7 linked regions of the Homo sapiens genome follow. The protein of the gene in region 1 interacts with the protein of each later gene in a pairwise test. Each region holds a gene or a part of one and is shown in the gene's direction. Other genes may lie near its edges.

Region 1 (4,566 bases):
TGTCTCTACTAAAAATACAAAAATTAGCCAGGTGTGGTAGTGTATGCCTACTGTAGTCCCAGCTACTCGGGAGGATGAGGCACAAGAATCGCTTGAACCCAGGATGTAGAGGTTGCAGCGAGACAAGATCATGCCACTGCACTCCAGCCTGGGTGACAGAACGACTCTGTCTCCAAAAAAAAAAAGAAAAAGGAAGTTTTATCTTAACAGAAATTAAACCCTCAAGCAAGGCAGTAGTAACCTGATCATGCACACTTTTAAGATTAATTCAGCAGTGTGCAGGAGAGTTCAAAGGAGAACTGTTTTAAAATTCAGGCTTGAATTATTCGTATAGGGAAAAAAATCACATATCTTTTCTTCTACTAAAACAGGGCCATTTATCATCACTGTGTACCAAGTGGTAGAGGAGTAAGCAATGATATGCTGTTTAGATATGCTGAAAAGGTAATTTGTAAAACCTTTATTGCACCTTCCAACAGAACATCAAATCTCTCTAAATATAGGCTTATGAGTCAGAAGAACTATAGTTTCTAATCATGTATACCAATATCTAACACCCTAAGATTTTCTATTCCCTAATGTTAAGAGATAACCAAATAGTTGCCATTGTGTTTGATGATGTGCAAAACAAGTATATTATACCAAAAGTTGCAAATTGTCTCAGTAGAACTCTTCACTTTAGAGGAAAGGCAATTGAGAACAGGAAAGGTTAAGCAACTAGTTCTCATGGTTAGACAGGTAGTTAGATGGGAGAAGTAGAACTGAAACTTAACTCTCCAAGTTTTAGCATCTACCACATCCCAGAAAAAGCCCTATCTGCCAAACTTTCATATGTGCCTTATTTTCCTGTGCCCACATTGTTGCTCTCCCTGGCTGGAAACTTAATTAGTTTTTATAGACTTTTAAAATTCAGTTCAAGCTTTACTTCACTGAAGCCTTTCCAGGCTAGGTTAACTTCTCTGTACATCTCCTGCATACTTTTATGAGAAAGCTTATCAAATTATTGTAATTGGGCCAGGCGTGGTGGCTCACACCTGTAATCCCAGCACTTTGGGAGGCCAAGGCAGGCAGATCACCTGAGGTCAGTTCTCGAGCAGCCTGGCCAACACGGTGAAACCCCGTCTGTGCTAAAAATACAAAAATAGGCCAGGCGTGGTGATGTGTACCTGTAATCCCAGCTACTTGGAGGCTGAGAGAGGAGAATCAGTTGAACCTGGGAAGCGGAATTTGCAGTGAGCCCAGATTGTGCCACTACACTCCAGCCTGGGTGACAGAGTAAGACTGTCTTGAAAAAAAAAAAATTATTGTAATTATTTTTTAGCTTTTTTTCTTTCTTCTTTTTATTTAGAGATGGGATCTTACTATGTGGTCCATGCTGTTCTTGAACTCCTGGCCTCAAACGATCCTCCCATCTTGGCTTCCCAAAGTGCTGGGATTACAGGAATGAGCCACTACGCCTGGCCTTTACTGTTTGCTTCTATCACTAGAATCTGAAACACTTAAAGGCAGTGACTATCTTTTTTTTTTTTTTTTAATCTCCTAAACCTAGAACAGAGCTCCACACAAATGTGGCATTTACCAATAGATGAATGAAAGCAGCAGCAGGACTACTTGACCAACTGGATTGAATTTACTCCACCAGATTCAGAGATCACTCTAGGATTTTAAGCCTAAGACTCTGAGTTGAATGAAATTCTTTAAAAATATGCAATATTAACATAAGGCTACCACGCTACAGAGACACTAAGGATGCTTCAAAGATTACTAATAGACTCTGTGCCTAAGAAACTTAGTGGTACCATTAACAGATACAGAGAAGTTGGGAGAAGAGTCAGTTGTCAGTTGTGAGGGTAAAGATGAACTCCATTTTAAATATGTTGAATTTGCTGATAGTGGGAGATATTTATATCTATATCTATGTCTATCTATCTATATATATAAAATATGGAAAAATCCACCAAGAAGTCACACAAATAGAATTAGGACAAAGAAGATGTAGGCTGGAGGTACAGGTTTAGGAATTGTGGCATAAAGCTGAGAACTAAAATCTTACAGAATCAGGAACAAAGAAAAGTAGGTAAGGGTGAGGACAGAATATCAATTAACCATATTTAGGAGGCAGAAGAAAAAGAGCTAGTGAGAGTAACATGAAAGGAAGACTGATTACAAAAAGCTACTTGAATATTAGTGAAGGAACAGTAGTGTCTAATGTGGTCAAGGAGGGGAGGGGAGAGAAGAAATAAAGAACAATTAGATTAGGTAACAGATGATCACTGGTGTTCTTCAAGGCAGGAGAATCAATATATTTCTAGTAGAAAATGGTGAAAAAAGGTAGAGAACACATGGATCCAGCATATAGAGCCTATGCGTTTTGAGAAGTATGACTAAGTGAAGTACTGAAATATAATGAAGCTAGAGGGGCAGCAGAGCCAAGTACAGAACTTGTATTAATAAAAGAAGAGAGATCACTGCTTATGAGGTCCAAATGCTGTATGATGGGTTAGAGTATATCCAAGAGTTGTTACACCAAACCTACAGTGTATCAAGTCTAAATTAGGAATAATAACTACTAATCAACTACTACTAATTAGGAATAATGTCTACCTACTTTATGCCAGGAATCATAATGAAAAGTCAAATTTTTAACTAGACACCAATGACGCCTAACTGTCTTTCTCTTTCATTATAAACCCGCTATAGATAACGAGGAAATATTCTGAAATGGATCCCAAATATTTCATCTTAATTTTGTTTTGTGGACACCTGAACAATACATTTTTTTCAAAGACAGAGACAATTACAACAGAGAAGCAGTCACAGCCTACCTTATTCACATCATCAATGTCACAGGTATTGGCTAATTCTCAAAACACAACAGGGAATCCTTTGGGTCAACCAACACAATTCAGCGACACTTTTTCTGGACAATCAATATCACCTGCCAAAGTCACTGCTGGACAACCAACACCAGCTGTCTATACCTCTTCTGAAAAACCAGAAGCACATACTTCTGCTGGACAACCACTTGCCTACAACACCAAACAACCAACACCAATAGCCAACACCTCCTCCCAGCAAGCCGTGTTCACCTCTGCCAGACAACTACCATCTGCCCGTACTTCTACCACACAACCACCAAAGTCATTTGTCTATACTTTTACTCAACAATCATCATCTGTCCAGATCCCTTCTAGAAAACAAATAACTGTTCATAATCCATCCACACAACCAACATCAACTGTCAAAAATTCACCTAGGAGTACACCAGGATTTATCTTAGATACTACCAGTAACAAACAAACCCCACAAAAAAACAATTATAATTCAATAGCTGCCATACTAATTGGTGTACTTCTGACTTCTATGTTGGTAGCTATAATCATCATTGTACTTTGGAAATGCTTAAGGAAACCAGTTTTAAATGATCAAAATTGGGCAGGTAGATCTCCATTTGCTGATGGAGAAACCCCTGACATTTGTATGGATAACATCAGAGAAAATGAAATATCCACAAAACGTACATCAATCATTTCACTTACACCCTGGAAACCAAGCAAAAGCACACTTTTAGCAGATGACTTAGAAATTAAGTTGTTTGAATCAAGTGAAAACATTGAAGACTCCAACAACCCCAAAACAGAGAAAATAAAAGATCAAGTAAATGGTACATCAGAAGATAGTGCTGATGGTTCAACAGTTGGAACTGCTGTTTCTTCTTCAGATGATGCAGATCTGCCTCCACCACCTCCCCTTCTGGATTTGGAAGGACAGGAAAGTAACCAATCTGACAAACCCACAATGACAATTGTATCTCCTCTTCCAAATGATTCTACTAGTCTCCCTCCATCTCTGGACTGTCTCAATCAAGACTGTGGAGATCATAAATCTGAGATAATACAATCATTTCCACCGCTTGACTCACTTAACTTGCCCCTGCCACCAGTAGATTTTATGAAAAACCAAGAAGATTCCAACCTTGAGATCCAGTGTCAGGAGTTCTCTATTCCTCCCAACTCTGATCAAGATCTTAATGAATCCCTGCCACCTCCACCTGCAGAACTGTTATAAATATTACAACTTGCTTTTTAGCTGATCTTCCATCCTCAAATGACTCTTTTTTCTTTATATGTTAACATATATAAAATGGCAACTGATAGTCAATTTTGATTTTTATTCAGGAACTATCTGAAATCTGCTCAGAGCCTATGTGCATAGATGAAACTTTTTTTTAAAAAAAGTTATTTAACAGTAATCTATTTACTAATTATAGTACCTATCTTTAAAGTATAGTACATTTTACATATGTAAATGGTATGTTTCAATAATTTAAGAACTCTGAAACAATCTACATATACTTATTACCCAGTACAGTTTTTTTTCCCCTGAAAAGCTGTGTATAAAATTATGGTGAATAAACTTTTATGTTTCCATTTCAAAGACCAGGGTGGAGAGGAATAAGAGACTAAGTATATGCTTCAAGTTTTAAATTAATACCTCAAGTATTAAATAAATATTCCAAGTTTGTGGGAATGGGAGATTAAAATGCATGTTTGAGAATAGAGAAAT
Region 2 (4,566 bases), on another chromosome or scaffold:
AAGGTTCTTCTCAGAGAAGGCCCAAATGATGAGAAAGAGCCAGAAGAGGAGGAGCTGGGGAAGAAGGGTTCCAGGCAGAGGAACCACAAAACACCAAATCACTGAGGCAGGGCCAGGAAGAAAGTCTATGTGGCTGGAGTGGTGTGTGATGGGGGCAGGTGAAGGCAGTGAGGCCAGACAGGCACTGGCAGCCAGATCCTGTTGGGCCTCGAGGGCTGCTGGGAGTCATCGAGGAAGTGTTTTAAGCAGGGGGGTGGTTCGGGGAAAGGTGGCTCTGGCTGCCGTGTGGAGAGTGGTTGGGGTGAGGGAGCAAGTCTAGGAGACCCTGGAAGAAGGATCCCCTGAGTTCTTTCCACGGATAGACCGTAGGAGCTGCCTGGGCCAATACTGTTCTAGCCTCTGAATACACAGCCAGGAACAAGAGAGGCAAACAGCCAAATCCCTATTCTCCTGGGGCTCATGTCCTGGCTGGGGAGACAGAAAATAAGCCTGTAAAAATTAATTACTATTATTATTGTTATTATTTTTATTTGTATTATTGTTTACTTAAAGACCAGTGTGATAGTACAGTTAAAAAAAAATTAGAAAGCGATGAGGCCAGTCACAGTGGCTCACACCTATAATCTCAGCTATGGGAGGCCAAGGTGGGAGGTTCTCTGGAGCCCAGGAGTTCAAGACAGGCTGGGCAACATGGTGAAACTCCATCTCTACAAAAAATTTAAAAATTAGCCAGGTTATGGTAACATGCACCTGTGGACCCAGCTACTTGGGAGGCTGAGGTGGGAGGATCGCTTGAGCCTATGAGATCAAGGCTGTAGAGACCCATGATCATGCCATTACACTCCAAACTGGGCAACAGAGTGAGACCCTGTCTCTAAAAAAGAGAGAAATGAGTGTTAGGGGACAGGCCCAGTGGATCATGCCTGTAATCCCAACACTTTGAAAAGCTGAGATGGGAGAACCGCTTGAGGCCAGGAGTTCAAGACCAGCCTCGGCAACATAGTGAGACTCATCTCTACAAAAATTAAAGAATTAGCTGGGCGTCCGCCAGGCATGGTGGCTCACGCCTGTAATCCCAGGACTTTGAGAGGCCAAGGTGGGTGAATCACTTGAGGCCAGGAGTTCGAGACCAGCCTGGCCAACATGGCAAAACCCTGTCTCTATCAAAATTACAAAAATTAGCCGGGCGTGGTGGTGGTGCCTGTAATCCCAGCTACTCGGGAGGCTAAGGCATGAGAATCACTTGAACCTGGGAGGCCGAGGTTGCAGTGAGCCAAGATCGCGCCGCTGCACTCCAGCCTGGGGGAGAAAGTGAGACTCTGTCTTCAAAAAAAAAAAATTAGCCAGGCATGGTGGCATGTGCCTGTAGTCCCAGTGACTTGGGAGGCCAAGTCAGGAGGAACTTGAGTCTAAGAATTCAAGACTACAGTGGAACTATGATTGTACCACTTCACTCCAGCCTGAGTGACAGAGCAAGATCCTGTCTTTAAAAAAAAAAAAAAAAACGGCCAGGCACTGGGGCTCACGCCTGTGATCCCAGCACTTTGGGAGGCCCAGGCAGGCAGATCACATGAGGTCAGGAGTTCGAGACCAGCCCAACCAACATGGCGAAACCCCATCTTACTAAAAATAAAAAAATTAGGGCTGGGCGTGGTGGCTCACGCCTGTAATCCCAGCACTTCCCGAGGCAGGCGGATGACGAGGTCAGGAGTTCGAGACCAGCCTGGCCAACATAGTGAAACCTCATTTCTACTAAAAATACAAAAATTAGTCAGGCTTGGTGGCGGGCGCCTGTAATCCCAGCTACTCGGGAGTCTGTGGCAGGAGAATCACTTAAAACCAGAAGGCAGAGGTGGCAGTAAGCTGAAATCGCACCACTGCATTCCAGCCTGGGTGAAAGAGCAAAACTCCATCTCAAAAAAAAAAAAAAATTAGCCAGGTGTGGCGGCAGGTGACTGTAATCCCAGCTGCTTAGGAGGCTGAGGCATGAGAACCCAGGAGACCAAGATCATGCCATTGTACTCCAGCCTGGGCATGACAGAGCGCGACTCCATCTCAAAAAAAAAAAAAAAAAAAAAAAAAAAAATTAGCCGGGCATGGTGTAATCCCAGCTACTCAGGAGGCTGAGGCAGGAGAATCACTTGAACCTGGGAAGTGGAGGCTGCACTGAGCCGAGATCGTGCCACCGCGTGCCAGCCTGGGCAACAAGAGTGAAACTCCATCTCAAAAAAATAAAAAAGAAGAAGGCTGGGTGTAGTGGCTCACACTCTGGGAGGGTGAGGTAGGAGGATTACTTGAGCCCAGGAGTTCAAGACCAGACTGGGAAACGTAGCAAGACCCCATCTCTACAAGAAAATTAGCTGGGTGTGGTGGCATCTGCCTGTAGTCCTAGCTACCTGGGAGGCTCAGGTGGGAGAATCGCTTGAGCCGAGGAGGTCAAGGCTGCAGTGAGCCATGATCACACTACTGCGCTCTAGTCTGGGTAACAGGGCAAGACTCTGTCTCAAAAAAGAAAAGAAAAATAAGACAGCGTGATGTGAGAGAGTGCCTGGGGTGGGGGTCATTGTAGATGGACTGGCAGGAAGCATTCTCTGAGGAAGGACATCTAAACTGAGACCCAAATGATAAGGAGATGGCATCTGAAGGTCTGCCAGACAGAACAGTCAGTGCCAAGGCACTGAGGTGGGAATGTGCTGGGCAAGTTCAGGCTCAGAAAGCTGGGGGCTGGAGGGCTTCCAGCGATGGGGGATCTGAGAAGTCAGGGAGGGAGGCATCTGATCGGAGCCCCATCTCCCACTCTGAGCCTCCGTCTAAGTGTCCAGAGCTGCTGCTGCAGCCTCCAGGCTGATGTTGCTCCTAGGAGGAGTGGACAGTCCACCCCACTACCCTCCCAGGGTTGCCCTGACCCAGTTGTCCCTGCCCACAGGCATCTGTGGCTTCCTGACCTTTGGAGCTGCTGTGGATCCTGACGTGCTCCTGTCCTATCCCTCGGAGGACATGGCCGTGGCCGTTGCCCGAGCCTTCATCATCCTGAGCGTGCTCACCTCCTACCCTATCCTGCACTTCTGTGGGCGGTGAGCCCCCTTCCACTCCCCAGGGCCCCTCCTAGCCCCTGTGAGCGCTTCCAACATGGTCCTTTGGCCTTGTGTGGACCCCATCCTGTAGAAGGAGAAACTGAAGCCTGTAGAAAAGAGTCGGTGCCTAGGATGGGTCCCTACATATCCCAGGCCAGGTGTCAGAAGCGCCCTTTGTCCTGGGGTCACCAGAACATTCCGTGAGTCCTGTAAGAATCTCTATCCATGGCATGGCACGGTGGCTCACGTCTCTAAACCCAGCACTTTGGGAGGCTGAGGCAGAAGGATCGCTTGAGCCTGGGAGTTCAAGACCACCTGGGCAACCTAGTGAGACCCCATCTCTACACAAAATAAAATAAATAGCCAGGTGTGGTGGGATGCACCTGTGGTCCCAGCTACTCAGCCACTTGGGAGGCTGAGGCAGAAGGATGGCTGGAGCCCAGGAGTTCAAGGCTGCAGTGAGCCAAGATTGCACCACTGCACTCCAGCCTGGGTGAGAGAGCCAGACCCTGTCTCAAAAAAACAAAAAACAAAAGAATCTCTATCCAGATCCTTTCCTGAGCTTTCACATGGACACCCTCCCCTTTGGATGCCCCAGACAGTTCCTTTTAAGGAAAAAACAATATCAGTTTCCATGTGATGTAAAGCAAAGTGCTAAGCTCTCGACATTCACCGTCTCTAGTCCCTGTGGTAAACAGAGTGCTGGTGGCCCATTTTACAGAAGAGGAAACTGAGGGTCAGGAATGGGGCTTTCCCCGCAGTCTACCCAGTTAGGGGTCTGGCTCCTGTGAGCTAGAGGTGGGGAGCTGCTAGCAGCAGGGGCACCTCTAAGCCCTTCTCCATGTGGGCAGGGCGGTGGTGGAAGGCCTGTGGCTGCGCTACCAGGGGGTGCCAGTGGAGGAGGACGTGGGGCGGGAGCGGCGGCGGCGAGTGCTGCAGACGCTGGTCTGGTTCCTGCTCACCCTGCTGCTGGCGCTCTTCATCCCTGACATCGGCAAGGTGATCTCAGTCATTGGAGGCCTGGCCGCCTGCTTCATCTTCGTCTTCCCAGGTGCGGACCCCTGGCGCCCCATCTCACAGCCCCACAGCACAGACTCCCAGGGCCTGCCTAGCCTCAGCTCCCTACTTGCTCAAAACATGCAGGAGAGAGTAACCACCAGCACTAATTGATCACCTGTCTCGCCTCTGTACTAGCCCCTATCCAAGCATTATCTCCTGGAAAGAAGGTATAGTTGTGATCTCCAGTTTACTGATGGCACGTGGGGCTCAGAAAGGGTCACAGACTTGCCTAGAGCTTAACAAACTCAACTAGTAACCTTTTCCATCCCACGCTGTCTGGGTCCAGAGTCTATTCTTTTAACCATTCATTCAGGTGTCTGCTGCTCCTTGACTATGAGGGATCTATCTGGCTGGTTCAGCCCATTACAGCCCAGAGGGCAGTGGGGTCTGGGGTGGCACCCTGACACAGACATCAGGGAACCTGGGTTCCAGA
Region 3 (3,891 bases), on another chromosome or scaffold:
CAGATTAATGTAACAACAAAAGCCAACCAGCTCTGTTAAAACTTACAAATGGCAATACCTTCCATAGAGGTTGGGAAGACCTCCGTGCTGCCCGTGTACTCACCCCTGCCACCCCCTGCCACCCCTTCCCCCACTATTTGGTCAGTGCTCAACACATGCCACTAGAGGTTTGGGTTTAAGGTTTTGTCCACTGTTAACGATACATTTGGGGGGAAGGGGGTCTGTCTCCCTCTGAGCTAGACCAGGAAGGAGGAGAAAGGGCAAAGCTTGCTGCTACTGCACAAACTGGAGGATGGGGAAGAGACAGGAGGGGTGGCACAGCCATGGGGCAGGGAGGCCAGGGGGCACAGTTGAACCTGGGCAGAGACACTTTGAATTTGGGTGCAGGGGGTGAGACTCTCTTGCCTAATGAGTGCTCTTGGAGACCGAGGACAAACCTTCACCAAATGGGCTAAGACCACAGGTTGCAGCCTTGGGGCTGACGGCGACCATGGGCCTTTGTGAAGTGTTGGCCCTGGGATCCCTGGCCCTAACCAACCATGCCAGCTGGCCCTAGACAAGCCAGCCTTGCTTGAACTGGATTTCCAAAGGCCCTGAACGCCGTGTGTGGCCTCCCAAGTCCATGCAGGTCCTCATTTACCCTCCATCCCTACCTCCTCCAACCTCACTGGCTGCCCCCAGCACCAGCTGAAACCCCGGCCCCAGCAAAATCAAACACGAAGGAAGATGGGAGAGATAGTGAGCACTCCATTCCTTTCGTGCCTATGGCCTTTTTTCTTATTTCTGTGGGCCCTGGGCCCCAGCCTGATTTTGGTGGCTGTCAAAAGGAGTTTGCCAGGGCCTGTTGTGAGCAGCCTGTGGCCCAGTGCTTACCCGGGGGGCGGGGGGGGGGGGGTGTCCTCACAGCCCCAAGCACCGCCTGGCATGTACAGTCAATCTATTGAATGAATGCTACCCGCTGGTCTCCATTCTACTCTCCCAGAGAAAGTGTTTAAATTGCTCCACTGGCCAAAGTGCACACTCCTGATTACCCTCTGTGAGTCCTGCCCCGTCCAGAAGTTGAGGACACTCGGAATCTCAATAATGAACAACCCAGGTGCAGGGAACTGCCCCGTGTAGAAAGCTGATGGCCTGGAGTGTGGTCAGAGTGAAAGAGCCACTCCTATATGTTTGATCCTCCAATGACTGGTCCACAGAGTCAGAGAGGGGCAGCCTGCGGGGCACAGGCTGCCAGGGTGGATTCCATCAGAGCAGGTGCTGTTAGCACCCATGACCACCCTGTGCCTCTTGAATGTGTCTGTGTGTGTGCACCCTCCTGGCAAACAGAGCAAAGGGCCAGGAGCTTGGAAAGGAAGTGAGAAGAGCAGGGTGGAGACGTGGGGCTGAGTTTTGAAGGCAAACGTTAGGAGAAGGACTGGGGAAGAGAGGCTCCCTTCTGTTGGCCTAGGAGAGGATTGGTCCAATCTGTAGCCAGGCATGTGGATTAGAGCTGGATCTCCAAAGACGAGTGCCCAAGACCATATTTTAGGATAAGAAAATTAAACTTCTATTTATATTGAATTTTATGTAATCCTTTCAAATGTTTCTACTTTTGCATATTTTACTATATATATAATTAGTCCAATAAAAATATGTATAGTTGATAATGGAAGAATGTACATATATTGAGGATGCATGGCCAAAACAGTTTTTAATGCTGAGATTACACTATCAAGAAAGTCTGGAGACTACTGCATTTCAGAGTTTTGTTTTTGTTTTTGTTTTGAGACAAGAGTCTTACTCTGCCACCCAGGCTAGAGTGCAATGGTGCGATCTCTGCTCACTGCAACCTCTGCCTCCTGGTTCAAGTGATTCTCCTGCCTCAGCCTCCTGAGTAGCTGGGATTACAGGCGTGTGACACCATACCCAGCTGATTTTTTTGTATTTTTAGTAGAGACGGGATTTTGCCATGTTGGCCAGGCTAGTCTCAAACTCCTGACCTCAAATGATCCCCCTGCCTTGGCCTCTCAAAGTGCTGGAGTTACGGGCATGAGCCACTGCACCCAGCCTCATTTCGGGGTATCCTAAGGGCTCATAGAATCCAAAGGTTCTGATAGATAGGTAAATCAGTTAGCCTATGTGTAAATCAACTGTCCTCTGTGTAAATCCCTGAGGTACAGAGAAGTGAAGTGACTTGCTGGGGCTGCACGAAGTACAAGGAACATTCCAGACCCTCTGAGACCTGCCTATCCAATCATCCACGCATCCATCCATCCACCCACCAATCTCTCCATCCATCCATCCATCCCTTCATCCATGAAGCTTTATTTTATACTTCAAAACAAAATCAAATGTAAATTATGCTTCAATAAATCCTAGCCAAAAAAATTAAAAACAAATTACGAGTGTTTAACTGGTATGCATCACTGTGCATATATAGGCACGCATCCATCTATCCATCCATCTGTCCCCACGCAGCAGGTATCTGTCCTGTCGTGGTGATCTGCTGGGTCATCTTCCCTACCTCCAGGCCATAGCATCCTTCAATCCATCCGTCTCTCCCCACTCTGCAGGTATCTGTCCTGTCATGGTGATCTGCTGGGTCATCTTCCCTACCTCCAGGCCGTAGCATCCTTCAGAGTCCTCCATTCCTTCCTGTCTCACCTTGCTCCACTTCAGTTCCTTTTCACCCTGATCCTAAATCAATACTATAACTTTTAAATGACTCTCCCTGCTTCTAGCCCTTCCTGGCCCAGTCTGTTCCAAGCACCACTGCTAAATCAATCTTCCAAGTACTCTTGAGTGACTGCAGATTGCCCTTGGTCATGGCGCCCAGTCTGAAATTCTTGGCCCAACCCAGAGGCCCACAGCATATGCCCTGTATTGTGATTCTGTCTTTTGGAGTTAGTGGCTTCTGGAGAAGCTTTAGTAAATTATGCTTCAATAAATCCTAGCCAAAAGTAATAATTAAAATGATGTGAGTGTTTAACTAGTATGCATTACTGTGTGTATACACTCATGCATGCATGCATGTGTATGCTGAGAGCCTGTGTCTGACAGCGTGTGTGCCTGAGCAGGGCGGCAGCTCCAGTGCTCCTGAGGGTTGGAAATCCAGCCGATGATCAGCTGCTGAGCTGTGCACCCTGCCTTGGGGGCCACAGCATTATGCGAGAGGAGGTGCCTTTCTCTATTTCACCCAAGCCTCCAAGCTCTTTTTATTGTCTTCTCAGGTGCTTTCCTCTCAGAGGAAAAGAACACAGCCCAAAGCTGAGGCCTGGCCCAGGTAAAATAGTGAATAGGGTGAGGAAGGTGCATTTTACCAGCAGCAGAGAACCCTCCCGGCTTTCTCCAGCCAGATGTGTGAAGGTGTGAGGGAAGGGGTGACTCTCCAGGAAGTATCAACTGCAACAGAATGTCATTTCAGAGTGCAGAGGTCCTTATGGGTTTTCTCGTCCAACCCTTCATTTTATCAGGCCATGAAACTAAGGGTGTCATTTGCCCTGAGCTTCCCATCTGGATTGGAAAGAGCTTTAAAACCTCTCTCCTCTCTCCCACCTCTCAACTGCTTCCCTTCCAGAGCTCCCCTTGGTAAGTCTGTGCTTTCTCCCCTACAGCCTGGAAGCTCCGACCCCAGGAGCCAGCCCATCAACCTGAACCATTACGCCACCAAGAAGAGCGTGGCGGAGAGCATGCTGGACGTGGCCCTGTTCATGTCCAACGCCATGCGGCTGAAGGCGGTGCTGGAGCAGGGACCATCCTCTCACTACTACACCACCCTGGTCACCCTCATCAGCCTCTCTCTGCTCCTGCAGGTGGTCATCGGTGTCCTGCTCGTGGTCATTGGTGAGGAGCCCAGCCTGCAGTCAGACCTTCTGCCTCGGCACCCGTGGCTGGCAGAAAGGCCCCACGTGT
Region 4 (4,249 bases), on another chromosome or scaffold:
CGGGAAGAGGCCAGTTGTTGCAGGAGTAGCTGTCCCTAGGGGCAGAACCCAAGTCTGAAATTGGTCTCAGTTAGAGACAATGGGTGTCTCTTTCGGGGTCTTTGTTCAGAGGCCTCAGTTTCCCCATCTGTGACATGATGGAGTGAACTGACAGTGACCTCCCTAATGCCCTCCTGCTCTGAGATTTGACACTGTGGCATTGTTGTGCCCAGGCTCAGCCTGGCATTGGCGCTGGGCCCTATCTCTCATGGCTGTCTGAACCAAGGCCACGTGGGTTGGACTTCTCACATGGCCAAAGAGATCACAAGGTTTAGGGGCTTGAGATTTTTGCCCTACAAGTTGGCTAGTCCTAATAGGTGACCTCCATCTGCGACCTCAGTGAGCCCTTGGCTTTGTCTCCACTTCCATAGAATGGGGTTGACCCTTCACCAGTCTGGCCATGGGCACAGCCACGGCACCACCAACCAGCAGGAGGAGAACCCCAGCGTCCGAGCTGCCTTCATCCATGTGATCGGCGACTTTATGCAGAGCATGGGTGTCCTAGTGGCAGCCTATATTTTATACTTCAAGGTCAGAGCTGGGACACAGGGTGGTGGGGGTGGCAGGGGAGTGTAGACCACCTGAGTATACTCTCTACCGGGGTTTCTTTTCAGATTCTAGCTCCCTCCCAGTTCTAGGGAAAAGGGTGGGGAGAGGAAAGGAACATTTATCCAATACCTACCAAGTGTCAGCACTTCTGATCCTCACAACAACCTGAAGGGTAGGTGGTAGTGTTTTCTGTAGCTCAGAAAGGTTCAGTGACTTGCACAGTGTCACACAGCCGGTAAAGCATAGAGCCAGATTCAAGCCTACGACTGTGTGTTGTCAAACCCTGGGCAATGCCCATCACATAGAGGCAGGGAGCTGTAGTGGAAAGAGGCAGGCATTTGCTCTGAAGCTTGGCTCTCCTCCTTGCTAGCCATGTGACATTGGATGAGTTTGCTTGCTCTAATGGAGCCTCAATTTCCCCATCTGTCAAATGGGGACGGATGGCGGATCAGATGGTATCTAAGATGCCTTTTTGCTCTGTCCATGTCTCAGCTCCTTGAGAAGGAGGGGTGGGAAGGGACTGCCTTATTCTGAACTGTGGTCTGTCCTTTCTGCTCTTGCAGATGTGAAATAAAGAGCAGAAAACTGGGAGGCAGGGCCAGGGCGAGGCTCATGCCCACCCAGCAGAGAGAGCACCTCTCCCCAGCAGTGCTGGGTGGGAGGGGAGAAGGGAAGCTGAGGTGTTAGATGGTGAACTCCAGGTCTGCCTTCCTGTCTTCCTGCAGCCAGAATACAAGTATGTAGACCCCATCTGCACCTTCGTCTTCTCCATCCTGGTCCTGGGGACAACCTTGACCATCCTGAGAGATGTGATCCTGGTGTTGATGGAAGGTAACCTGGGCTTTGTGGCTCCCTTTTTGCTCTTGGCTCTCAAGCGCTAATCAGCTCAAATAGGGTATGTGTGTGTCTGGGGCATCCTAGCACATGGGCGGGGAGCCAGGATCCGGAGCCCCGGCATAGGCTGGAAAACCTCCTGGGGCCCCTGGGCTGATCTTGACATAGAGCCTGGGCTTTCAGGTGTGGCAGTTCCTGGAACCGTCCCCCAGCCCGAGTCTTCCCTTCCCCCTACCCCTAAGGGTGCCTCCTCTGCCTAGTCAGGTGGCTTCTGGGGGACATCTGTAGCATCTGGAGCTCTCCAGCCCTCCCCTATACACTTCCCCAGGCTCTGGCTGCCTTCTCTCAGGAAGAGAGAGGGGGTGAGGATTATGCTTCTCATTGCACAGAGGGGCAGACTGAGGCTCAGAGAAGGACAGTCAGCCTTGGACAAAGCTACTGAATCCACTGCAGCGCAGGCCTTTCCTACATCTCAGGGACCAAACAATGCCACACCCTGTGGGGACATGGCTGTGCTTTGTGGGGTTGGAGAACGGTCAGTGGTGGAGAATGATCTGGTCTGCCCTGAATTACCTTTTTTTTTTCTTTTTTCTTTTTTTTGAAACAGGGTCTTGCTCTGTCATCCAAGCTAGAGTGCAGTGGTGCCACCAAGGCTCACCGCAGCCTTGACCTCCTAGGCTCAAGTAATCCTCCTGCCTCAGCCTCCCAAGTAGCTGGGACCACAGGCGCATGCCACCATGTCTGGCTAACTTTTAAATGTTTGTAGAGATGGGGGGGGGGTCTCACTATGTTGCCCTGGCTGGTCTCGAACTTTTGGGCTCAAGCAATCATCTCACTTCGGCCTCTCAAAGTGCTGGAGTTACAGATGTGAGCCACCACACCTGGCCCTGCACCTTGGCTTTCTTATGCTCTAGGCCTGGGGTCTTGGGCCAGGGTCATAGGCCTCTGCGTGGTCAGGGTCAGTCTGGAATGGAGTAGGATGCTGGCCTGGGCTTAGCAGTATTTGGCTGCAGGTCAGAGCTTTTTCTCCAAGAATATGCTAACCCAGATGAAAGCGATAATGATGAAGATGATGATCGTGCCCTGGGTGGGTCCAAGGATTCTCAGGATCTGTTCTTTCCTTCTTTCCATTCAAAAATATATTTATTGGCCAGGTGCGGTGGCTCACACCTGTAATCCCAGCACTGTGGGAGGCCGAGGCAGGCAGATTACCTGAGGTCAGGAGTTCAAGACCAGCCTGGCTAACACAGTGAAACCCTGTCTCTACCAAAAATACAAAAATTAGCCGGGCGTGGTGGCATGCGCCTGTAGTCCCAGCTACTCAGGAGGCTGAGGCAGGATAATTGCTTGAACCAGGGAGGCAGAGGTTGCAGTGAGCCAAGATCACGCCACTGCACTCCAGCCTGGGTGACAGAGCAAGATTCCGTCTCAAAAAAAACCAAAAAATATATTTATTGAGCACCTACTATGGAGTAGGTGCTGTTTTAGGCACCAAGGATACTGTGGTAATCAAAGGAGACTGTCCTGCCCTCATGGAGTGTCCATTTTAGAGGGAGAAACTGACAATAAGTACATTCATAAATAATTTCAGTGTTAAGAGTGGAGAGGAAATACAACAGAGTGATAGGGCAGAGACCTTGGGAGGTGAAGGCAGCCTCAGACCTGCAGGCCAAAGAGGTCTTCTTTGAGGGGATGACACCTGAGGATCAGGAGCCAGCCCTGCACCAATGGGCAGGCGTGGGAGGGGTAGTTTCCTTTAGTTTCCCCTGTCCTTGCCGTCCTCAGGGACCCCCAAGGGCGTTGACTTCACAGCTGTTCGTGATCTGCTGCTGTCGGTGGAGGGGGTAGAAGCCCTGCACAGCCTGCATATCTGGGCACTGACGGTGGCCCAGCCTGTTCTGTCTGTCCACATCGCCATTGGTGAGTGCTTGGGACACTCAGGGTGGGGTGGGAGACAGGCAGCCAAAGGCCTAGTGCCATCCCCAACGGGTCCAGGTGACCCCAGATGCTCACAGTGCCCATGCATCAAGCCCAGCCTCATGCTGAGTACTTGATACGCATTATTCCATCTGATCAGCACAATCTCATTTATCCATGAAGAAACTGAGGCTGGGGTTGGGTGGTAAAGTTACTTGCCCAGGCTTTTACAGCTAGTATATGGCAGTAGGTGGCAGATTCCTGGCCTTAAGGCCAGTGCTTTACCAGCTCTTTCAGGCATGAGCCAGGTCTGGGCTGGGAGGCTACCTGGCAGAGGAATGGAATCTGGGGGCTTCTCCATGTTCATGGTCCCCCATCCTGTTCTGCTGGGGATGGGGTATGAGATTTGGGCTCCTGATGGTTCCAAAGGGCCAGAGTAAATGGCTTCCCCCGCTGTGTCCTCTCGGCCCCCAGCTCAGAATACAGACGCCCAGGCTGTGCTGAAGACAGCCAGCAGCCGCCTCCAAGGGAAGTTCCACTTCCACACCGTGACCATCCAGATCGAGGACTACTCGGAGGACATGAAGGACTGTCAGGCATGCCAGGGCCCCTCAGACTGACTGCTCAGCCAGGCACCAACTGGGGCATGAACAGGACCTGCAGGTGGCTGGACTGAGTGTCCCCCAGGCCCAGCCAGGACTTTGCCTACCCCAGCTGTGTTGTAAACCAGGTCCCCCTCCTGACCTCTGCCCCACTCCAGGAATGGAGCTCTTCCCAGCCTCCCATCTGACTACAGCCAGGGTGGGGACTCAGCGGGTATAAAGCTAGTGTGACCCTGCTCTTCCAGCTCCTGGGCCAGCTCTGGAAGGGCTGTATTTGGGCCTAATCCTCAGCAAATGTTCTACCACTC
Region 5 (3,907 bases), on another chromosome or scaffold:
GTGGATTCCCCTTAAGGCAGGTTTCCCAGGAGCCACCTGGCTTTTATTTGTCTCACACAGTTCCAATTGTTCCCAACGGTTATTTCACACAAAAGCAGCTTTAGTTACCTGGTTAGACAGGTTGGTTACTCCTCTAATTCCTACTCATATTCAGGAAGAGGAGACTCTTGGCTTTGGACATTCAGATGATCGACCCTGCATTAGTTTGGCTACAGTGATGAGGTGGTTTGCTGATGCCATCTCTTCTCAAGTCTTTTGCATTCTGGTTTGCACCCTTACATCTGTTTTCTCCAACACCTCCAGTCATCTCCTGGCTCCTTTACCACTTCCTTTAACCACCCATAGGTTTTTCTCTGTGCTGGGAAAAACGTTCTGTCTCTTGCTCTCCTCTTCATCTATGAGACTATTATTCCTTCCTTTCACTGTCAAACAAACTTCTTACAAGTTTTTATTCCTAACCACTACTTCATTTCCTCTCTATACCTTCTTCCTCCCTACAATATGGCTTCTATCCCCACAATTGGATTGAACTCTCTTTCTGAAAGATTTTCAGGGAAACCTTTTTTTTTTTTCTTGCCAATCCTGACTTCACTTGTCCATTCCATGTTTTAGATCTCCTGTCATGTGAGCCTCCAGAATGGCTCCCTCCACAGAGTTCCCATTTTGGTCCATGGGAGCTCCAATTTTCACTTAATTAATTCATGCTTCCAGTTTTCTTTCAAAGTACTTCTCATCTGTCCCTTTCCATTCCCCTGGACACCACCCTGCTCCTGGCGCTGGTTCCTTTGCATCTGGATCTGCACTCTGCCTCTGGATCGCCCTGTTCCCAGTCTCTCCTTACTGAAATCTGCCCTATACACCACATTGATAATATCGTTGTTAAAGCACTATTTTACTGTGTCATTCCTTCGCTTATAAACCTTCAGTGCCCTTTGCCACCTATAAGTCCAAACTCAGGCTGGCTTTTCAGATCTTTCATAATATTTCCCCACACTACTTAGCCAATCTTATCTCCTACTAACTTCTAAATGTTAACTCTACTCCTGCCAACTTGGTCTCTTCATTGCTTCCCAGATACGTTGTCTCACCTGTATGCATTTGTACATGGCGTTTGCATTTTCTGGAACTCCCTCCCTAAATCCTTCTATACATTTTTCCAAAATATATCCTCCTTCCATGAAGTATTCTGTAACCCTTCTGATGAACTCATCACTTGCCCTTGTTCTTCTAAACATTCCTTACACACAAACAATTCATTTTGACGTTACCTTGCACACTCATTGCCAGACGTTGCCACCTGTTTTATATGTCTGTCTTCTGAACAAAACAAATTCCCTGTTGGCAAGGACGGTGGTATAAACCACCTTTGTATCCTTCAAGAAGCCCAACACATTGCTGAGTATATTGCAGGCCTCTAATAAATGCTTTAAATTGAAACGTGGTAATGATGTTTTAGAAAGAATGAGAATGACCATTTGTGTTTTCTTCTCTACCTCCAGTCAAGTATCATCACGTGGGCAAACTGCTGAAGGAGGGGGAGGAGCCCACTGTGTACTCAGATGAGGAAGAACCAAAAGATGAGAGTGCCCGGAAAAATGATTAAAGCATTCAGTGGAAGTATATCTATTTTTGTATTTTGCAAAATCATTTGTAACAGTCCACTCTGTCTTTAAAACATAGTGATTACAATATTTAGAAAGTTTTGAGCACTTGCTATAAGTTTTTTAATTAACATCACTAGTGACACTAATAAAATTAACTTCTTAGAATGCATGATGTGTTTGTGTGTCACAAATCCAGAAAGTGAACTGCAGTGCTGTAATACACATGTTAATACTGTTTTTCTTCTATCTGTAGTTAGTACAGGATGAATTTAAATGTGTTTTTCCTGAGAGACAAGGAAGACTTGGGTATTTCCCAAAACAGGTAAAAATCTTAAATGTGCACCAAGAGCAAAGGATCAACTTTTAGTCATGATGTTCTGTAAAGACAACAAATCCCTTTTTTTTTCTCAATTGACTTAACTGCATGATTTCTGTTTTATCTACCTCTAAAGCAAATCTGCAGTGTTCCAAAGACTTTGGTATGGATTAAGCGCTGTCCAGTAACAAAATGAAATCTCAAAACAGAGCTCAGCTGCAAAAAAGCATATTTTCTGTGTTTCTGGACTGCACTGTTGTCCTTGCCCTCACATAGACACTCAGACACCCTCACAAACACAGTAGTCTATAGTTAGGATTAAAATAGGATCTGAACATTCAAAAGAAAGCTTTGGAAAAAAAGAGCTGGCTGGCCTAAAAACCTAAATATATGATGAAGATTGTAGGACTGTCTTCCCAAGCCCCATGTTCATGGTGGGGCAATGGTTATTTGGTTATTTTACTCAATTGGTTACTCTCATTTGAAATGAGGGAGGGACATACAGAATAGGAACAGGTGTTTGCTCTCCTAAGAGCCTTCATGCACACCCCTGAACCACGAGGAAACAGTACAGTCGCTAGTCAAGTGGTTTTTAAAGTAAAGTATATTCATAAGGTAACAGTTATTCTGTTGTTATAAAACTATACCCACTGCAAAAGTAGTAGTCAAGTGTCTAGGTCTTTGATATTGCTCTTTTGGTTAACACTAAGCTTAAGTAGACTATACAGTTGTATGAATTTGTAAAAGTATATGAACACCTAGTGAGATTTCAAACTTGTAATTGTGGTTAAATAGTCATTGTATTTTCTTGTGAACTGTGTTTTATGATTTTACCTCAAATCAGAAAACAAAATGATGTGCTTTGGTCAGTTAATAAAAATGGTTTTACCCACTATAGTGTGGTGACTTATTTAAATTTTTTTAAAAACCTTATTCTAGGGAATCTGATTCAGACATTTTACTTTGGCTTAAAATTCAGTTTCATTTTTGAGTGCAGAGTTTTTGTATTCCAAAAGAAACAAGGGGCAAAATTTCATGGAGACCCCACACCAAAAACCAAATACCAGCTTGTCCTGTTTAAGAAATAGTGAATTGAATTGCTTTTTTTGTGACTTGTCAAAGTTTTGCCTAAATCAGAACTTTCTAAACTGTAAATGGCAGACCTCCACCTTGAAGTCTATAGCAAGGTTCTTAAGAAGTAAGGTTACTGAAGGCATTGTCATTGCCAAGTGCTAAGGAAGGGTTTGGGTTTTTTTGTGTTAATGTATTGTCTGATCAGGAAAGTATCAGGAATCCTTACAGTAGCAAAGTTAATTCACCTCGTGTCAAAAGAAGCATAACAGATTTGCATATGCAGTCAGTTGTATAAACAAAGACAACCTATTAGTGTTTTGTCATTTTAATGTTAACATTGGCAGAGTTTTCTTATAAGAGATATACTTCCTGAACCAAAGAAATTTCCATTTTTCATGTTATCAAACCACATTGCAGGTACTTGTGAGTTTTTTTTAATGTGCTCTTTTTTTTTCCCACTTGGTTTCATTCACCAAATGTTTGAGTGCCTGTTTTGTGCCATGTAACCTGTTATGCCTTATGCTTTGGAGAAGGAGTGGGGGAGAGAAGTTGGGCCCACCTTCGCAGCCTGAAATCTCATGTGCATGTGAAGATTAGGCTACTCATTTTGCAAAGTTAAACAGGCTTGTCTGCTGCCAAGAGGAAAATATCCAGAGCAAGCTTGTCCAACCCATGGCCCACGGGCTGCATGCGGCCCAGGAAAGCTTTGAATGTAGCTCAACACAAATTTGTAAACTTTCTTAAAACATGAGGTTTTTTTTGCAATTTTTTTTTTTTTTTTAGCTCATCAGCTCTCGTTAGTGTTAGTGTATTTTATGTGTGGCCTAAGACAGTTCTTCCAATGTGGCCCAGGGAAGCGAAGAGATTAGGCACCCCTGATTTAGAGCCTCACTAAAGTTTCACTCCCAATAAC
Region 6 (4,566 bases), on another chromosome or scaffold:
CAGGGCACGATGAAGGGCTTTTCAGCCACGGTGGGTGGGTGGTTAGCGCTCTGCCCAGGGCAGCTCAGGGTTCCCTGACTGTGGTTGTCTTCCTTCCAGGCGGCTGCAGGCTTCAGCCTGCGCTGGTTGGTGAAACAGAGATGTCAGGTGAGTCCTGCCTGCCTGGGAGCCTCCAGCAGCGTGGGCGGGAGGGAGATGCCAGCAGTTCCCACAGGAGCCCTCGGTCCTGGCCGTTGGCAAACAGTGTCCTCCTGGCCCACCTGGCCTCTGACTCCTCGGGTCCCGTAGCCCAGCACAGCTGGAGTCACGCCTCTGCTGGGGGCAAAGGACAGCAGAGCCGCCTGTGTATCCGCTCGGACGCCTCACTGACCCGAAGCACAGCCCAGCCGGGTGCCCCTGCCATCACAGCTGCTCTTTCCTTATAGCAGCGGGCGTGTTCTCATGTGCCCCGGGGTCCCTCACCCACTCATTTACTGGCAGCCTTCCCCAGTGGGGCGTAAGCCCCTGAGGACAGGGCCTCTTGCTGTCTGACTCCCCATCTGGCCCTCGCAGGCGCCCAGGGACACTTCCTCAGGCAGTGCTGGCTGAGCAGAAGCTCCTGGGGGGCTCCCAGTGCCACGCTGAGTGCCCCAAAGGCTGTGTTCCCATCTTGATCCCTGGAACCTGTGAGTGGGACCTCATTTGGGAATATGGCCTTAACTCCGGACGTGATGGAGTTAAGATAAAGTACTGGAGCAGGGCGAGCTCTCATCCCAGTGCCTGCTGTGTTTATAAGAAGAGATGGAGGCCGGGCACGGTGGCTCACGCCTGTAATCCCAGCACTTTGGGAGGCCGAGGCGGGTGGATCACGAGGTCAGGAGATCGAGACCATCCTGGCTAACACGGTGAAACCCCGTCTCTACTAAAAATACAAAAAATTAGCTGGGCGTGGTGGCGGGTGCCTGTAGTCCCAGCTACTCGAGAGGCTGAGGCAGGAGAATGGTGTGAACCCGGGAGGCGGAGCTTGCAGTGAGCGAGATCGGGCCACTGCACTCCAGCCTGGGTGACAGAGCGAGACTGTCTCAGAAAAAAAAAAAAGAGATGGTCCGGGCGTGGTGGCTCACGCCTGTAATCCCAGCACTTTTGGGAGGCCGAGGTGGGCAGATGATGAGGTCAGGAGTTTGAGACCAGCCTGGACAGCATAGTGAAACCCCATCCCTACTAAAAATATTAGCTGGGCATGGTGGCACAGCACCTGTAGTCCCAGCTACTTGGGAGGCTGAGGCAGGAGAATCGCTTGAACCTGGGAGGCGGAGTTGTGGTGAGCCGAGATCACGCCACTGCACTCCAGCCTGGGTGACAGAGTGAGACTGGATCTCAAAAAAAAAAAAAAGACATGGAGATACAGGAGGAGTCGTCGTGGAGATGGAGGCAGAGGCCAGAGCTATGCGGCCATGAGCCAAGGGCGCTGGGATCCCCCAGAAGCTGCTTGAGAGAGGCAGGAAGGCTCCTTCCCCGGAGCCTGCAGAGGGAGCGCGTTCCTGAGACACCTTGATCTCAGATTTCTGGCCTCCAGGACTGTTAGCAGATAAATATTTGTTGTGTTCTTTGTTTTGTTTTGAGACAGGGTCTGGGTCTCTCCCAGGCTGGAGTGCAGTGGTGTGATCATAGCTCACTGCAGCTTTAACTTCCTGGGTTCAAGCGATCCTCCTGCCTCAGCCTCCCGAGAAGCTGGGACCACAGGCACGCACCACCACGCTTGGCTAATTTTTGTAGTTTTTGTAGAGTTGGGGTCTCGCTAGGTTGCCAGGCTGATCTGGAACTCCTGGGCTCCAGCAGCCCTCCTGCCTCAGCCTCCAAAAGTGCTGAGATCACAGGTGGGAGCCCCCACACCTGGGCAGTTTCTGTTGTTCTAAGCCTCCCAGTCGGTGGTGGTTTCTCACAGCAGCCATGGGGAACGGAAGCGTCCCCAGGCCACAGCCTCCCCGCAGTGTGCGGACTCGGCCTGCTGAGCCTGCATGTTGGCGTCCCTGCCTGCCGGAGGGAATGATACTAAATGCAGCCTGCTGCAGCCGCACCCACACTAAACATGGAGGAGGGCTACGAAGAGTAGCAGGGCCCTGCATGAAGGGTGACACGTAAATTTAAAAAACAATTTCGGCCGGGCGCGGTGGCTCACGCCTGTTATCCCAGCACTTTGGGAGGCAGAGGTGGGCGGATTATTTGAGGTCAGGAGTTCAAAACCAGCCTGGCCAACATGGTGAAACCTCGTGTCTACTAAAAAGAAAAATCCAAAAATTAGCCGGGTGTGGTGGTGGGCGCCTGTAATCCCAGCTACTTGGGAGGCTGAGGCAGAAGAATCACTTGAGCTTGGGAGGCAGAGGCTGCAGTGAGCCGAGATCGCACCACTGCCCTCTAGCCTGGGAGACAGCGCGAGACTCCGTCTCAAAAAAAGAGTCATAAACTTAGTTCCTTAAAACAGTGAAATCAGTTATCTGACAGTTCTGGAGACCAGAAACGCTAACATCAAGCTGTAGGCCGGTTCCCGCCTTGCCCAGCGTCTAGAGGCGCCCCCATCCCTCCACTCAGGGCCCCTTTCTCCCCCTTCACAGCCTCAGCGCAGCCTCTTCCCGTTTCTCTCTGACTCCCACCCTCCCGTCTCCTCTCGTGAGGCTGCCACGAGGACCCTCTCCTGTCTCAGCGTCCTGCCCTCAATCCCAACTGCAGAGTCCCTTCTGCCATGAGAGGCAACCCAGCCTTGGGTCGAAGGGATGAGGTGGGGCCTCCTTCAAGAGACAAAGTCTGGTTCTGTCCGTGGGTTCTCTGTCCCTACAGAAAAGGAGAACAACTTCCCGCCACTGCCCAAGTTCATCCCTGTGAAGCCCTGCTTCTACCAGAACTTCTCCGACGAGATCCCAGTGGAGCACCAGGTCCTGGTGAAGAGGATCTACCGGCTGTGGATGTGTGAGTGCGCCTGGGGGCAGGAGGCGGGAAGCGGGAGGCAGGGCTCCCCGAGGGAGGGAGTGGCATTCAGGCAGGGGCAGCCCGTCGGGGGCCCACCGTCTACTGAAGCCGTCCTGGGCCTGGTGGTCCCTGCGGTGAACGAGGCTGGTGTCCAGGCCCCAGTGTCTTGGCTTGCACAGTTCATCCTCGACATGGGGTCACTGGGCTGGGGAGGCGGACAGCGGGTGCCCCATTGCTGGGCCCATGCTTTCCCACGGCCACACCCTCCCGTGCCTGCTCATCCGTCCTCCCTCTCTCTTCGCAGTTTACTGCGCCACCCTCGGCGTCAACCTCATTGCCTGCCTGGCCTGGTGGATCGGCGGAGGCTCGGGGACCAACTTCGGCCTGGCCTTCGTGTGGCTGCTCCTGTTCACGCCTTGCGGCTACGTGTGCTGGTTCCGGCCTGTCTACAAGGCCTTCCGGTGAGCAGAGCTGCCGGGGGCCGTCTGCACCCAGAGGGAACCAGGGCCCACTCTGCACCCCAGTCCCAGCCCAGCTGTGAGGAGCTGTCCCTTTCTCTGCCCAGTGTGAAAGACAGTTCACATCTGGGGGTGGCAAACTGTGGCCCACAAGCCAGAGCCAACTACTGTCTGTTTTGTTTTGCTTTCTAGTAATTTTGGCTGGGTGCAGTGGCTCAGGCCTATAATCCCAGCACTTTGGGAGGCCGAGGCAGGCGGATCACCTGAGGTCAGGAGTTCAAGACCAGCCTGGCCAACATGGTGAAACGCTGTCTCTACTATAGGTACAAAAATTAGCCAGGCGTGGTTGCGGGCGCCTATAATCCCAGCTACTCAGGAGGCTGAGGCAAGAGAATCGCTTGAACCCGGGAGGCAGAGGTTGCAGTGAGCCGAGATCTCGACACTGCTCTCCAGCCTGGGCGACAGAGTGAGACTCCATCTCAAAAAAAAAAAAAAAGGAATAAAATAGAGCCTCCGCTCTCACCATCTCTGACTGGCCCGTTCCTCTCTAGGCGCGTCTGGGAGAAGCCAGGGCTGTGGTAACCGTCGTGTTTTCTGTCCCTCCCCAGAGCCGACAGCTCCTTTAATTTCATGGCGTTTTTCTTCATCTTCGGAGCCCAGTTTGTCCTGACCGTCATCCAGGCGATTGGCTTCTCCGGCTGGGGCGCGTGGTAAGCCTCTCTCTGATGGGCGTGGTGGCTGTGATGTGGCTCAGCTGCCAGGTTGTGGGCCTGCTGGGAAGCCAGGCGGCCACCGGAGCGTGCTGGTCCGGGATTGTACGCGCTCTCCTAGGGAGGGGTCTGAGCTCACCCTGGCAGCGCCCGCGTCCTCGCCAGCGCCCGCGTCCTCGCCAGCACCCAGCCATGGTTCGCGATTGTAGGCACTCTCCTAGGGAGGGGTCCGAGCTCGCCCTGGCAGTGCCTGCGTCCTCGCCAGCGCCCAGCCAGGCTTGTCTCCTGAGTGTTGATCACACCCCTGACCCGGGGTCTGGGAGCCAGTTCCTGGCTGCTGATGTTTCTGCACGGATCGCTGCAGGAGGAAGACCTGTACATCTGTAAAAACACACATACCTGGTGCTGTTACCACACCTGAGAAACTCACAGTCACTCTCTAAGGCTGCCAGGTG
Region 7 (4,871 bases), on another chromosome or scaffold:
TGCATTTTTCCTACGCTTTGGGTGTGTGGGAGCCAAAAACTTTATTCTTTTAGTTCACAAGTCTTCAGACCAAGAGTAAGTACAACAAAGGATAGGACTTTCCTTTATCTGCTCCTGGATCTGATTTAGCTTACAAAAATATCCTGTGTAAGAAGCCTGAACCTGATGCTATATTGATATGAGACTATTGTTTGCATTGGAAGGAAAAAGTGTATATTTCATGTCAGAGGAAACAAAATTTATTCCCAACGGAAAGGATGTGGCTATTTTTAAAAAATTAGCAAATACTAGGTACATTTCTCATTAAAAGTTGATGTGTATGGTCCACACCCTCCCCTCCATCCTCACTCCACCTTGAAGTAAAACAGGCTTGTGCCTACCTTGGTATTGAAAATTATATAATATAACTTCTAATACTAGGTCATAAAAGGCCATTTACTTTCTGTCTTGCTTGCTAGAAATCCCACTTTTGGAGCATTAAGCCACCCTTTCATGCTAATGCCAACAATGCACCTAGAGGCCATAAGTAGGCATTCTGGTAGACAGTCCTAGAGTACCTTAACCTTTTCAAGGCTTCTTATAAACTTTGTGTTTATAAGCATGAATTAGCTTTATCCTTAGGGCAAGTTTAGCCTTACTTAAAACAGTGTAGCTTTCCTTGGATCTTGTCTGAATGTTGCAAGTGTTCAATGAGGATTCTACTTTCTGGCTGTTCCAGTCTTGAAAGTTTCCAAATCCTACGTGAAGTCTTGGGAAACTTCAATTCACAATTCCTCCATATATGCAAAACCTACACAAATGACATATGAGGTTCTTTTCTGTTATAATGAAGAAATTAAGTTTTGAGCTTTGTAGCCAAAAAGAGACCTTTCCATGAACTAATACATCTCTCCCTCTAAGTGCCAGTCTTTCAAAATACTGGCTAGACGTTATCATTTCAAACATTATTATTATTGCAAATAGGGGAACTAGTTTTAATATGCTATCTTGTTGACCTAGTAAATATTTCCAGGTATAATTGATTTACAATAAGAGACAATACAGCGTAATAGTGAAAAACAGGCGCTCTGGAGCCGGACTGGATTTAAATCTTTGCTCTAACCCTTACTAGGGAGGTGAATTTGGCCATATTACTTAACCTCTCTGTGCCTCAGTGTTTTGTCTCTTGAAAAGGGGTGGGGGAGGGGAGATTATCACAGTATCTACCTCACTGGGTGTTTCAGGAAAGTTAAATTCATAAATATAAATAAAATGCTTAGCACAGCAACTGGTAATTAGTACTGGGAGTTTGCTGTTATTATTATGCTATTGTTGTTATAATTAATGATCTGAAGAATAACCAGAGCTCTATAGGTTTATCATGATTACTAATGAAGATGCCACTAAAAAAAAGAATTCAGGAGCATCTTGGCGGTGGCAGCGAGTTTGAAGATGCGACGATCAACGTTGAAGATCACCGCTCGCAACCCCGGGCCTGGCGCCGGGTAGGGGCGCGGCGCTCGATTTCCTTCCCTGCCTCCGCCGTCCCCCTGGTGCGCATGCTCAGCTCAGCTCGGCCCTCGCCTTTGATTTATTTTTTTTCTGGGCGGCCGCTGCGACCCGGGACTGACTTCGGGATGGGAAGTGGAGCCCCCGGAGCTGCTACCGTGGCGGCGGCGCTGTGAGGAGCAGCCAGGGGGAGGCAGCTGCGGCTCGCCGGTGAGTATCCGGGAAGCGCCACCATGGGGCTCCGTAAGAAGAGCACCAAGAACCCCCCCGTTCTCAGCCAGGAATTCATCCTGCAGAATCATGCGGACATCGTCTCCTGCGTGGGGATGTTCTTCCTGCTGGGGCTTGTGTTCGAGGGAACAGCAGAAGCATCCATCGTGTTTCTCACTCTTCAGCACAGTGTTGCTGTCCCTGCAGCAGAGGAACAAGCCACGGGCTCAAAGTCCCTCTATTATTATGGTGTCAAAGATTTGGCCACGGTTTTCTTCTACATGCTGGTGGCAATCATTATTCATGCCACAATTCAGGAATATGTGTTGGATAAAATTAACAAGAGAATGCAGTTCACCAAAGCGAAACAAAACAAGTTTAACGAGTCTGGTCAGTTTAGTGTGTTCTACTTTTTTTCTTGTATTTGGGGCACATTCATTTTAATCTCTGAAAACTGCCTGTCAGACCCAACTCTTATATGGAAGGCTCGTCCCCATAGCATGATGACATTTCAAATGAAGTTTTTCTACATATCCCAGTTGGCTTACTGGTTTCATGCTTTTCCTGAACTCTACTTCCAGAAAACCAAAAAACAAGACATCCCTCGTCAACTTGTCTACATTGGTCTTCACCTCTTCCACATTACTGGAGCTTATCTCTTGTACTTGAATCATTTGGGACTTCTTCTTTTGGTACTGCATTATTTTGTTGAATTACTTTCCCACATGTGCGGCCTGTTTTACTTTAGTGATGAAAAGTACCAGAAAGGCATATCTCTGTGGGCCATTGTGTTTATCTTGGGTAGACTTGTGACTTTAATTGTTTCCGTACTCACTGTTGGGTTTCACCTGGCTGGATCGCAGAATCGGAATCCTGATGCCCTTACTGGAAATGTAAATGTGTTGGCAGCTAAAATTGCTGTTCTGTCGTCCAGTTGCACGATCCAAGCCTACGTAACATGGAACTTAATTACTCTCTGGCTTCAGAGGTGGGTAGAAGATTCTAATATTCAGGCCTCATGTATGAAAAAGAAACGGTCGAGATCTTCTAAAAAAAGAACAGAAAACGGAGTGGGAGTGGAAACTTCAAATAGAGTAGACTGTCCGCCAAAGAGGAAAGAGAAATCTTCATAATCTTTGCAAGCGCATTGATTAATGTCTGCAAAGGAATCTGCTCTTTGAGGTTTCTTTCTGCACTAGAGATTTTTCTGTTTTTGAAAATAGTTCGTGCTCTTCGGTTTTTGTTATTGAACTGTTTCATGTATTTTTTAAAGACATTTGAGGGGAGGAGGATTATTATGAATGGGAAAAAAAGATTTTGGTTGAGACTAAATTACTCATCGTCAAAATAATGTCAAAATAGTTTTGGGGATCACCACTATATTTTGTTTTGATTTTTAACCTTTCAACATTTTCCTAATGATTTGCAGAGATAACTGCACAATTTTGCATATCAATGATACTGGTTCTTACTCCCACCAGTGTTTCATAATACTAACAAGATGGTCTCTCCTAGCAAGATTATGTGTTTAATGCTTGCTTTGGGGTAAAATAAAAGTACGAAAAAGGTGGAAGTCAAATCAGTATTCTGTAATTGTTAGAATTTATTTTTTAAGAACTTACAACTCAGAAAAGATTGCTAGACTCACCAAAATAATAAATGTTCTTTATTTTACAGGTAGTGATTATTAGTGCTTCATCCCCATTTAAAAAAACACAGTACTAATGGGTAACACATATGGAGGTTTGCTGCCATATATATTGCATCAAAATATCATTAATTAATATAAAAATATTAAAATCATTCCTGTCCATTCCACTTGTAAATGGGAATTCATGAAATTAAATATTACTTTAAAAAGGACATTGAACTTAGTCTTTTTTAAAAATGTTTATTAAAAATGATTCCTAATGAGGCCTTGTAAGATCAGTAACCACAGCATCTTAGAAAAATATTGTTTGTATACCAGGTTGAAAAATAATACTTGGCATGTGTATAAAAAAAGTCAGCTAATTACATTTGGAAAGCATGTTATGCATCAACCTTCAATAAGTTGAAAATCAGATAGTCACATGAAAGGCTTTTGAAAAATAATGTTGTGATTATTTGTCTTCATCTTTAATTGGGGAACATTTATCTGTATAAGACATATTTTGAAGATTATTTACATACACATGTATGTATAATCTGTATCTTTGCAGAAGCCAATGGAAACAATGGGAATTAGTGGGTGAGTATTTATACGTATTGCCTCTCAATCCTTATTTCAGTTTTATTTCCATAATGTGTTTATATAATTTTTCAGTAAGACAGTACTTTACAAATATGCTAGGGGAAGGCCATATATTTCCTATTCCGTTATATTTTCTCCTACTATGTCTCTCATCTCTAAATATTTTATAGCCAGCCCTCTCTTTGGTTTAAGTAATTCAACTCTCCCAAGCATGGAGGGCCCTCAAAATCAAGTTTAATGCTTTTATTACAGATCACAGACAGAAGAGCCACTCTTGGTAAAACATTCCTTTCTGTCTGCTTTCAGAAGTAAATATCAAAGCAAGATTTCATTTTTTAAATATAGAATCCATCATCTTACCTATTTTTGTTTTCAGTTACTGAATACTGTAATATTGGTAGCACATGTTGTAAGGTCCAAAGTAAACCAACTTTATGCAACTGAAAAACAAAGATTTTTACCTTCTCGTATGACAGAGAGTTCTTTTTTTAAAACCATTCTAGCCCATTACCTGTAACCCCACTCCTGGTAAGAAATGCCCTATATATTGTATACTTCTTTACAAATAAGTGCAGATCTGACTCAAACTGGAAAAATAAATTACAGAAAAATTATTATGTTACATGATTAACAATGCCAAGAGTTAAATTTGGCTTAGCAATAGATGTGATTAGGATTTAGATCAGTTTCCCTAGGATTTTTCTTGGCTCTAACCCCTTAGCTTTATGTTCTTCATGGCAGCAAATAATGAAAGCTATTCTAGGCTTTGTTTCTTTAACCCTGTGATGGAGAGAAAGAGAAAAAAACTAATTTCTAAAATTCCCAAGACAATGGGAGTTACCTTTAGTAAAGTCATTTGATAAAGGAGTATACTGGGCTGATGGATGTAAGTCAGGTTTCATGCTTCACCCATGTAAAAAGGCAAAGCCTGTTTTGTGTG

Evidence for each region.
Region 2: the proteins of EVI2B (region 1) and SLC38A7 interact in binary tests that used the Homo sapiens proteins (3 or more experiments, as listed by UniProt).
Region 3: the proteins of EVI2B (region 1) and NINJ2 interact in binary tests that used the Homo sapiens proteins (3 or more experiments, as listed by UniProt).
Region 4: the proteins of EVI2B (region 1) and SLC30A2 interact in binary tests that used the Homo sapiens proteins (3 or more experiments, as listed by UniProt).
Region 5: the proteins of EVI2B (region 1) and PGRMC1 interact in binary tests that used the Homo sapiens proteins (3 or more experiments, as listed by UniProt).
Region 6: the proteins of EVI2B (region 1) and SCAMP4 interact in binary tests that used the Homo sapiens proteins (3 or more experiments, as listed by UniProt).
Region 7: the proteins of EVI2B (region 1) and TRAM1L1 interact in binary tests that used the Homo sapiens proteins (3 or more experiments, as listed by UniProt).

Annotation. Positions count from the first base shown.
Region 1 is NC_000017.11:31,303,765-31,308,330, reverse strand, and holds the end of EVI2B (protein EVI2B precursor), read left to right. Parts: intron 1-2,700; 5' UTR 2,701-2,721; coding exon 2,722-4,068; 3' UTR 4,069-4,561; downstream 4,562-4,566. UniProt on the Homo sapiens protein: Required for granulocyte differentiation and functionality of hematopoietic progenitor cells through the control of cell cycle progression and survival of hematopoietic progenitor cells.
Region 2 is NC_000016.10:58,670,604-58,675,169, reverse strand, and holds part of SLC38A7 (sodium-coupled neutral amino acid transporter 7), read left to right. Parts: intron 1-2,926; coding exon 2,927-3,074; intron 3,075-3,925; coding exon 3,926-4,125; exon of another isoform or gene 4,126-4,300; intron 4,301-4,566. UniProt on the Homo sapiens protein: Symporter that selectively cotransports sodium ions and amino acids, such as L-glutamine and L-asparagine from the lysosome into the cytoplasm and may participates in mTORC1 activation. The transport activity requires an acidic lysosomal lumen.
Region 3 is NC_000012.12:565,881-569,771, reverse strand, and holds part of NINJ2 (ninjurin-2), read left to right. Parts: intron 1-3,593; coding exon 3,594-3,822; exon of another isoform or gene 3,823-3,891. UniProt on the Homo sapiens protein: Its role in unclear. In contrast to NINJ1 paralog, does not mediate plasma membrane rupture (cytolysis) downstream of necroptotic and pyroptotic programmed cell death.
Region 4 is NC_000001.11:26,038,870-26,043,118, reverse strand, and holds part of SLC30A2 (proton-coupled zinc antiporter SLC30A2), read left to right. Parts: intron 1-410; coding exon 411-570; intron 571-1,313; coding exon 1,314-1,419; intron 1,420-3,207; coding exon 3,208-3,342; intron 3,343-3,813; coding exon 3,814-3,959; 3' UTR 3,960-4,249.
Region 5 is NC_000023.11:119,241,652-119,245,558, forward strand, and holds the end of PGRMC1 (membrane-associated progesterone receptor component 1), read left to right. Parts: intron 1-1,499; coding exon 1,500-1,603; 3' UTR 1,604-2,815; downstream 2,816-3,907. UniProt on the Homo sapiens protein: Component of a progesterone-binding protein complex. Binds progesterone. Has many reported cellular functions (heme homeostasis, interaction with CYPs). Required for the maintenance of uterine histoarchitecture and normal female reproductive lifespan.
Region 6 is NC_000019.10:1,914,880-1,919,445, forward strand, and holds part of SCAMP4 (secretory carrier-associated membrane protein 4), read left to right. Parts: intron 1-99; 5' UTR 100-140; coding exon 141-147; intron 148-2,814; coding exon 2,815-2,943; intron 2,944-3,247; coding exon 3,248-3,404; intron 3,405-4,009; coding exon 4,010-4,111; intron 4,112-4,566. UniProt on the Homo sapiens protein: Probably involved in membrane protein trafficking.
Region 7 is NC_000004.12:117,082,244-117,087,114, reverse strand, and holds TRAM1L1 (translocating chain-associated membrane protein 1-like 1), read left to right. Parts: upstream 1-1,538; 5' UTR 1,539-1,721; coding exon 1,722-2,831; 3' UTR 2,832-3,561; downstream 3,562-4,871. UniProt on the Homo sapiens protein: Stimulatory or required for the translocation of secretory proteins across the ER membrane.